3 separate regions of the Homo sapiens genome follow, and regions 1 and 3 are each reported to be linked to region 2. The links are microRNA targets in miRTarBase. Many come from high-throughput screens and were not tested one by one. Region 2 holds a microRNA gene; each other region holds the end of a gene's coding sequence.
Evidence for each region. The annotated mature microRNA hsa-miR-5190 reads CCAGUGACUGAGCUGGAGCCA and lies in region 2 at 1,166-1,186, shown strand. An mRNA with a match to its seed (bases 2 to 7 or 8) in the 3' UTR can be bound and repressed. Matches are read on the target gene's strand: a 7mer-m8 pairs with bases 2 to 8, a 7mer-A1 pairs with bases 2 to 7 and ends in A, and an 8mer does both.

Region 1: the mRNA of HS3ST1 is a reported target of hsa-miR-5190. Seed matches in the 3' UTR shown: 7mer-A1 at 991-997.
Region 3: the mRNA of ESRP2 is a reported target of hsa-miR-5190. Seed matches in the 3' UTR shown: 7mer-m8 at 1,865-1,871.

What each region holds. Positions count from the first base shown.
Region 1 is chr4:11,396,465-11,399,815 of GRCh38, reverse strand. It overlaps HS3ST1 (heparan sulfate-glucosamine 3-sulfotransferase 1), which reads left to right. Exons shown (of 2, transcript NM_005114.4): 2 at 1-3,351. The coding sequence ends at 734. Among named protein-coding and RNA genes, the nearest start is that of MIR572, 29 kb to the right of the region's middle. RefSeq lists an enhancer at 1,832-3,031.
Region 2 is chr18:13,458,828-13,462,178 of GRCh38, forward strand. MIR5190 (microRNA 5190) reads left to right here and starts at 1,120; the gene lies at 1,120-1,199. The region is part of intron 4 of LDLRAD4 (low density lipoprotein receptor class A domain containing 4); the gene reads left to right. RefSeq lists an enhancer at 2,783-3,077.
Region 3 is chr16:68,227,377-68,230,376 of GRCh38, forward strand. ESRP2 (epithelial splicing regulatory protein 2) reads right to left here. Exons shown (of 15, transcript NM_024939.3): 15 at 1,657-2,939. The coding sequence ends at 2,850. It overlaps NFATC3 (nuclear factor of activated T cells 3), which reads left to right. Exons shown (of 10, transcript NM_173165.3): 10 at 1-1,883. Among named protein-coding and RNA genes, the nearest start is that of MIR6773, 4.6 kb to the right of the region's middle. RefSeq lists an enhancer at 61-110.

The DNA.
Region 1 (3,351 bases), not on the chromosome of region 2:
AGGGCGGCACGCGCGCACTGCTGGAGATGCTCAGCCTGCACCCCGACGTGGCGGCCGCGGAGAACGAGGTCCACTTCTTCGACTGGGAGGAGCATTACAGCCACGGCTTGGGCTGGTACCTCAGCCAGATGCCCTTCTCCTGGCCACACCAGCTCACAGTGGAGAAGACCCCCGCGTATTTCACGTCGCCCAAAGTGCCTGAGCGAGTCTACAGCATGAACCCGTCCATCCGGCTGCTGCTCATCCTGCGAGACCCGTCGGAGCGCGTGCTATCTGACTACACCCAAGTGTTCTACAACCACATGCAGAAGCACAAGCCCTACCCGTCCATCGAGGAGTTCCTGGTGCGCGATGGCAGGCTCAATGTGGACTACAAGGCCCTCAACCGCAGCCTCTACCACGTGCACATGCAGAACTGGCTGCGCTTTTTCCCGCTGCGCCACATCCACATTGTGGACGGCGACCGCCTCATCAGGGACCCCTTCCCTGAGATCCAAAAGGTCGAGAGGTTCCTAAAGCTGTCGCCGCAGATCAATGCTTCGAACTTCTACTTTAACAAAACCAAGGGCTTTTACTGCCTGCGGGACAGCGGCCGGGACCGCTGCTTACATGAGTCCAAAGGCCGGGCGCACCCCCAAGTCGATCCCAAACTACTCAATAAACTGCACGAATATTTTCATGAGCCAAATAAGAAGTTCTTCGAGCTTGTTGGCAGAACATTTGACTGGCACTGATTTGCAATAAGCTAAGCTCAGAAACTTTCCTACTGTAAGTTCTGGTGTACATCTGAGGGGAAAAAGAATTTTAAAAAAGCATTTAAGGTATAATTTATTTGTAAAATCCATAAAGTACTTCTGTACAGTATTAGATTCACAATTGCCATATATACTAGTTATATTTTTCTACTTGTTAAATGGAGGGCATTTTGTATTGTTTTTCATGGTTGTTAACATTGTGTAATATGTCTCTATATGAAGGAACTAAACTATTTCACTGAAAAAAAAAAAAAGATTTTTTCTGGAGACGCTATGTTTTTTTGAATATAATTAACTTGCCCCCAACTCAAAATAGCTGTCTGTGTTGCAATCATTGCAAAATCTAAATTCTTTTGTTACTTAAAAAAACATGTTTTTCATGGCTATTACAATCCTCTCTCTCCCCTCTCCTTTCTGCATTGCTCTTTTTAATTTTTAATGTCTCATTGTGATCATCAGATTTATTTTTACTTGGATTGTAAGATTTATCTCCTCGGCGATTCCTTGTCATTTTTGGAGGTCACAGTTTTACTCATTCCCATGTGTAAACTTCAAGTAAACAAAGCAATATTCAGGATGGAGAAGCAGTTAGTGACTGGCTAGAGGTCTCTTGGGATCCATCTTGACCTCAAAGAATATTTGCACATGCTTCTGATCTCAGCAGTTATAATAAAGAGGATTAAACCCTTGGCCTTCAGAATGATCTTGGACCTGGATACTTTGCCCCAGGTGGCAGCTGGCCTCCAGAAAGCCAATTAGAATAGAAAAGAGAAACTGCGAAATCTATGCGTGTCTTCATCCTGTCGGTTCTGTGAAAGGCTGACTAAAAGGGTAGTAGTCTTTTGCTTAGTCTGAAAGTCTGCTTACTTCCTGAAAGACACATTGGCATTATAGACATATATTCCATATGCACTGAGACATAAATATGTGTATGTTTCAAAATCAACTCTAAATTTGGAGTCCTGAATGTGAAAGAAAAAGTAAGTTCCCAAGTGTTGAAGTTAAAAAGAGAAAAGGGCAGAGTTGAAGGTAGCACCTAAGAGAACCACTGTACCTGCCCCCAGAGGAGTGGCTGGAGTTCAGTTTTACTTCTGCCCCTGAGCAGCCAGCTTGTTGGAGATGGTCACATAAACCCTTCTTATCCTCAGTTTTTTCATGCATTCTTCATGCAGTCAGCCTTTTACAGAATTAAACCCATTGGATTTTAATAAAAATAAAACATTCATTACAGTAAAAGAGAAAATACAAACAAGCAAAATAAACCGGCTTCCTGACATGGTTTATACCGCAGGAAAATGACAGAAATGGACGTTATTAATCATCTCCTACACTTAAGAACTCATTGAAATTTCTCCAAGCAACCCCAGGATGCAGATATTATTATGGAAATTTCAAAGAGGAGGAATTAGGCCCAGAGAACATGAGAAACTTGCCCAAGGTCACATTGACTATAAACTCAGGCTTAGAGGCTACTCAGAGCCAAAGCACAGGTTATTTATGTATTTAGTTTTTACCCAACTCTTTCTGAACTCAAAAGGAAAAGCCCAGACTCAGAGCCAGTTCTTCCTGACCTGACTTAACATTTCTTCCCAGGTGCCAAATATCTTCCATCCTAAGAGGTGTGTCCCAGATACAGGAAGGGCAAGAAGAAGCCTGCATTTTTCTCAGCAGTGTTATCAGGGAAGTGAGTCACCTTGGTACGTTTCAGCAGCTCCAGCCTGACCTGACCTTAGCATGGCCTATGCCCCACCCCATATCATGAACAGAGAGCAGAGAGGATGCCTTCCTCTTTAGAATCCATTGAAGTTGTCATTAAGCCATCATCTCCCCCAGAGGAAGTAGCAGAAATATTTACAGCAGGCCCCTGGTGGACATGGTACTTTTCAATAGGCAGAGAGCCTCCCTCTGCAGCACATCGTTGGATCTTGCTTTTACCATACTCCTTGAAGAGCTGAAGAAATAAGAGGGCCCAGCAAGGTTAAGTCAAGTTTCCAAGCCTGTTCAGGAATATGGTGACTGAAAGGAAACTGCAATGAGAGTCTCTGACTGAAGAAGATGCTCTTTGCAAACTGCCTGTAAATTCCTGTCCCCTGACAGGGATGGTCTGGTAGAAGCATGAACTGTGGATGCAAGAGGCAGCGGGGAGGAGTGGAGGAAGACAGGACCAGCACATGGAATATAATCTAGCTGCTGGGACTGGCATAGTCGATGGAGGCGGTGGTCCAGTGTAAAATGATCAGTGAATGTAAATTCAATATGTTTTCATTTGGGGGTGCAGAGTCGTGGCTAAAGGAATGTTCAAATGAGTCTACCATGAGCAAGGGATCAGAGGTCCTAGTGGCACTATCTGTTCATTCATTTTTGGTACAACCCCAGCCAGTCATTGAGAAGGTACACTGTGTAAGAAACCATCACTCCAGACTTACCCAAGGTATTTATTGCTAGATCTCACCAAGCACTGTCAAATTCAAAGGAGGCCCTGTAGTAGACCCTGGGCTGTCCTTACAGGGCCAAAATGCAGTGACTCAGGAGCCTAATAGCACCCGGTCCCTCCAAAACATGCCTTCTACCAATTCCATTAACAGAGACAGGTGTC
Region 2 (3,351 bases):
TGCCATTGCTGGCTTTCCAGATGATGAAGGGGCCTCAAGCCAAGGAATGTGGGCAGCTTCTAGAAGATGGAAAAGGCAAACAAATATTCTCCCCTAGAGCTCTGGGAAGGAACACAGCTCTGCCACCTCCTTGATTTTCACCCAGTGAAATTAGTTTTGGATTCCCAACCTGTAGAACTGTAAAGTAACAAATTTGTGTTTTAAGGCCAGGTGTGGTGGCTCACGCCTGTAATCTCAGCACTTTGGTTTTGGAAGGCCGAGGTGGGAGAATCATTTGAGGCCAGGAGTTCGAAACCAGCTTGGGCAACATAGTGAGACTCCATCTCTACACCAAAAAAAAAAAAAAAAAAAAAAAAAAAAAAAAGCCAGGCATGGTAGGTTATGCTTGTGGTGCCAGCTACTCCGGAGGCTGAGGCAGGAGGATCACTTGAGCCTAGGAGCTTGAGGTTACAGTGAGCTATGATTGTGCCACTGCACTCCAGCCTGGTAACAGACTGAGACTTAGTCTGAAAAAGAAAGAAAAATTAAAAAATAACATTTGGTGTTTTTTTTTTCTTTTTGTTTTTGTTTTCCTGAGATGGAGTCTTACTCTGTCGCCCAGGCTGGAGTGCAGTGTGTGATCTCAGCTCACTGCAACCTCCACCTCCTGGATTCAAGCCATTCTCTTGCCTCAGTCTCCCAAGTAGCTGGAATTATAGGTGCCCGCAACCACGCCCGGCTCATTTTTGTATTTTTTGTAGAGATGGGGTTTCACCATGTTGGCCAGGCTGGTCTCAAACTCCTGGCCTCAGGTAATCTGCCCACCTCAGCCTCCCAAAGTGCTGGGATTACAGCTGTGAGCCACCGCACCCGGTCAAATTCGGTGTTTTAAGCCACTGAGTTTGTATAGCTTGTTATAGCAGCAATAGGGAAGAGATACATATGGCTTTGTCTATAGAAAGATATTGCTTAAATAAAAAGAAGAAAACCCTTCCAGGTCTACATTTTCTCAGGCAGTGCTTGCGCTTTAAGGAGCACGTGCAGGATATTTACATCAGCAGCAAGTATATGAATCGTAGCCTAGTCTCATCGTTAGAGGTGCATAAACTCAAGGTAAGCATACCCTAAGTTTCCGCTCAAGGTCATACCCTGGCTCCAGCCCTGTCACATGGTTAATGTTCCACAGCCAGTGACTGAGCTGGAGCCAGGGCCACTGCCCCCACGTCGTCACGCCATGGTCATTGTCATTTCACTGCAGTTTCTCCAGCTTCCTTTTGAAGAGGAACACAAAGGAGAGGTGCTTTGCAAGGATACAGTATATTATAAGAATAGGGACATGTTTGAAACTAGTAGTTAATGAACATTATTTTCCTAAATTCATAGCTTTTATTTTGTTTTTTTTAAGAGACAGGGCCTCACTCTCTTGCCTAGGCTTGAGTGCAGTGGCGCTATCACAATTCACTGCATCTTTGAACTTCTGGGCTCAAGGGATCCTTCTGTCTCAGCCTCCTGAGTAGCTGGAACTACAGGCACACGCCACCATGCCTGGCTAATTTTTGTGTTTTTTGTAGAGATGGGGTCTCACCGTTTTGCCCAGGCTGAGCTGGAACTCCGGGCACAAGCAGTCCTCCTGCCTCAGCCTCCCAAAGTGCTGGGATTACAGGCATGAGCCATGCACCCGTCCTTAACTGATAGTTTTAGAGCAGTCCATTAGAGTGGACCCATGTCATCTGACGAAGCCATGTGTCTGTTTTGTATTTTCTAAGAGATTTGGTGCTGAGTAAAGAAAAAGAAAATTCTTCATATCTGATGAGAAGGTAGTGCTGTTGAGAGAGACCAAAAAAGGACAATTAGTGATGAGGGTATTTAAGGCAGACAGTTCATACCTCCTGAGTTTTTGGAACATGTGTCTCTCTTTGGTAAAATATTTTGGGGATAATCCCTATTATATGTGTATTTAATTATTTTAATATTATATACATATACTATTATAAACTTCCTAAGATAAACACAAAATTATAGATTTTGCTGAAGAGCAAAATAAAAATAAAATTGTTCTCCCCTTTTCTTCCAACACCAAATGAATCAGCCCACTGGGGTGTAGTAGGCAGCTCTGCCTGGAACTGCCTGCCATGCCGCCCTCTGTGTGCCTGGAACAGCCTGCCATGCTGCCGTCTGCATGGCCGGGGCCCTTCTGCAGCCCCCACTGCACCAACCTTTGTCCGCCTTTATTGTTGGTGAACACAGTGCCCACCTCACCATGCTGGGGTGGCCTGGCTTGCTGTCTCTTGAGTACCGTGGGAACTGAGGCGGGCTGGCCTTGTCTCCCCAGCGCCTGCTCACAGAAGGTGCCCCATGATGTCTGTCGTGCAGATGAATGTGTCCACGCGTGCTGGGCTAGTACAGAAGATCGGTAGGCAGGGGTCTTCGTGGCCAGGGCCTGAGGAGGACCGATAGCCTTGGGGACTGCATGGGTTTTGAGAGTCTGGGGGAACCAGGGGGAAGTAGGAGGACATAGTAAACAAAGGTCAAGAAGAGCGAGGAAGACGTGGGGATGGGGACACGTACCTGACTGAGGAAAATGGATTCTAGGAACACAAACGTCATTGAAGAAGGAGAGTGTGTGTTACTGGTTGAGGGTGTCCTGGTCCTTGGCATCTTGAACAAATAATCAGACAAAACACACAAACAAAGCAAGGAAAGAATAAAGCAACAAAAGCAGAGATTTATTGAAAACGAAAGTACACTCCACAGGGTGGTAGCATGCCCTAGCAAGCGGCTCCTGAGCCCGGTTACAGAATTTTCTCCGCTTTAAAGACTCTCTAGCGGTTTCCCATTGGTTACTTGGTGTACACCCTATGTAAATTAACTAGTGGCCTTTGATCAGTCTGATTGGTTGCAGGAAGGGGCCAATCAGAGGCTGAAGCAAAGTTACAAAGTTACACCCTATGCAAATGTCTGATTGGTTGCAGAAAGTGACCAATCAGAGGCTAAAGTGAAGTTACAAAGTTATACTCCTATGCAAGACTTGGCCCCTGACCAGCCTGATTGGTTGTGGGAGGGGTCCAGTCAGAGGTACTTTCAATTTTTCATCTGCCACACAGAAAAAGTGGGAGGGGGCAGGGTTGCAAGGGAGTAGCCTCTGGTCCTTGTGTTACTTGGGCATGGAAAGTTGGGGTTTTCCTTTTGATTTAGTTCTAGGAAGTCGGTGTGAATCGGCCTTAGGTTCCCTTCCTCCAGATCCTATTCTCCTGCCTCATGGGGTCACTGCTTGCCTGGGTGGATGAGCTGGAGCTTCATTCTGTGAAAGCAGTGGGCTGGCTTCAGATCCCGTGACAGCTGCAAGCACAGCAGAACCAAGGCAGGCACTTG
Region 3 (3,000 bases), not on the chromosome of region 2:
TGCCTTTGGCTGTTCTGTGACCTTTGAAGCCAGTCTCAGTGGTTTAGGCAGCTTTGCAGTTCTAACTCTAGCTAGAGGCCAGGCTGTGTGCAGAGCTAAAGCACAAATGAGCAGTACATCAGCATGGGCAGAGAAAATACAGGACTCCAGATGGGAAGGTTTTAAGAGTCACACTGGCATGGAAGGCTTATCTGCCATTCTATTTATAGCCTGAAATGATTCTGGCCTACCCTGTCCTGTCTGTATGATCTAAAAACCAGCCTTTTCCCCAGAAGGCTCTGAGCACATCCAGAAGTGATAACCTGACCCTCCACACCAAAGACACCCTGGTGCTGCTGCTGGTGAGACTGGTGTCCAAGGCAGGGCCCAGCAGAAACTGCAGCCTGCTGTCTACCAAAGGAGGTACCCGAGTTGGGTACTTTAAAAAAAAAAAAAACCTGCCCTTACCCCTCTCCCTAATGGGATTTTTTTTACCTGTTCCTGGGCCCATTACAGAGCCTCTGAAGTTTGCAGTATGCTTTCAAATGAAATAATATACTTCCATTGATTCAGGAAGCAGATTTTTTGAGTGCCTATATGTGAGACAGTGTGCTGGTTGAAGGCCTGATGCTGTTATTCCAGGAGACTGCAGGCCCTTGATGCCAGGACTCTCTCTACTAAGGCCAGTTCAGGTCTGGGAAAGGGAGCTGGCCTATTGCCCACCACCTGTTGTCAGTAGGTTAGGAGCTGTTGACTCAGGATGAGGAAGTATGGTCTTTAAAAAAAACAAAATATATTTTAGATTTCTCCCCTAAAGTTAGTTAGAGAAAAAGGTCTATTCTTCAGCAGATCACTGTGGCCCCTCTTGGAGCTGGGTGTTTTCAAATTTTCTTGAAAAGTGAGTTGTGTCACAGAATGTGGATAGTGAGATTTGCTTCTGGGCCTGTGGTTGGACGCCCACAGCTTCCTTTGGAGGGGCAAGAAGTTGGCCTCTCGGTTGACATTCCAGAGAAATGGCCAGACTTGCCCCTACCCTTTTGCCCCTGGTGTAGCTGCCTCACATGAGGTTATTGCAAGAGTTCCCCTTGCAATACCCTTTGTGCCCTCAAGAATTAAAAGCCTCTATGATCCAGAGTTGCTATGCACCAAATTTTGATGCCTTCTAAATACCTTGATGCCTGTAGCACTAGAAATGCTTTCCTATTTAAAATAAACATTAAATTTTAAAATAGAGCTTTGTATACTATGTAAGCAGTTTTATATCAGCTTTGTAAAAGCTTTGGTGTTAAGAGTCAATATTTTTTGGCTTTGTAGATAAAGACTTAAATTTTTGTGCAACATAGTGGTGTTAAAGCACACATCCATTGGACTATGCAAATCAATTTCTACTAGCAGCACTGAGCAACTGGGCACGTGCTAGTACGCACCCCCTCCTACTCTAACTGTGCTAGCTCTTGGGTTGAGGAATGGAATGGGTAGCCTTCTGCTTACTGGAGATGCACAGAGAAACATGGCTGAAAACAGCTTTAAAAAGAACATGTCTTTGGGTTCATGTGTGGTGCTGCTGCCCGGGTGTAAACTATCCCCACCCAGGGCCAGCCATTATCACCAGACCTCTTCTGGGCCTGGCTGTGAAGCCCTGTTTTTGGTATTCAGAATGGATCTTTAAGGCTCAGATGGGCTCAAATTGAAACCTTGTGTTTTATAAAATGGATGTTTAGTAAAGGAACTGGTTCTCAGTTATGTTTACAGCACTTGGAATTGTGTGTTCTTGTACATTTTGTATTTTAAAACCTTTTATGGGAGTGCAGTGCTCCTTACACAAATACAAAGGGAAGAAGAGCCAGCAGTTGAGGCTCCTCAGTTTTAGTGCTGAAATAATAAACAGTGACAGGTCAACAGTATCCTTAATCTGTCTGAGTGTTCCTCCGCCTGGGGTTGGTGTGGAGCCCCTCACTTTGGGGCAAAGTTAAGGGTCCTGTGTCTTTTAAAAAGTCCATTTGGTCAATAACTTTTCATTTAAGGAAGAGAAGATCGAGTTCCAAATTGCTTCCGAGGCTTCAGTTCTGTACCATTTAATGCGTGCAAAGGACATTCCATGGTGTCTGCTGGGTTCAGGGCAACTGGCTTTCCCAAGGCATACAAGAAAAGTTGGCAGAAAGTCCTCCCCTTTAAAATTCAAGCCTGAAGGTTTTGTGTGGGGGCCTACTGCCCCCTAATGTCTTCTGGTGATACTGCAGCACAGTCCATCAAAATAGTTTGTGGTTTTGCCATCTGTTACTCCTTATGCCCACCTGGAGAGGGGCTAGCATCTTTAGGTGGGACCACCCCTGGCACAACATGGTCTCTGAGGTCCAGATACTCTGAGGGTAGGGGCTGGCTCTCTCTGCCTCCCTATCCCCTACAAGAGGGACAGGGAGAGGTAGAACATTGGGATCTTTACTCAGAGGCTCAGATGGACCCTTGATTCTCCCAGGAGTCATACATTGAAGGTACCAGAGCTTCCATTTTATAAAAGAAAGCAAGCCTGCCGTGGACCTGTCAGCCCCACGATATCTGTCGGCATGGGCCACAGCCAGGACAGACTTAAGGGCTCTCCAGGTGCCAGTCAAGATGCCTGGCTCAGGCCATCAGGAGCTGGTTAGCCCCATTCCACCCCCAGCCCTGCATGCAGGGTCCAGCCATTGTCTTTGGGGGAAACAGGCAGAATAAGTGGAGGATGGAGCTGGGGCTTGGGCTCCTCTAGGTACCTTCTGAGAGCTTTGACAAGCCAGAAAGAAGCTACCAGGTTGAGGGTGCTGGTCTTCTGGACTCAGGAGAGACATGTTCGCCGAGGATATCAGCTGGCTCTTACCTCCTGGCTTTCTCTCCTACAAACACACCCATTCCTTGGGGGCTTGTAACACAGTGCGAGGTGGGTCACCAACAGGCATCAGACTGGTGTAGTCATCAGCGGGTAGCTACAGAAGGGACACAGATTTAGGGCAGAGAGCTCAGCCAGACCCGCCAGGCCCTCCGGCC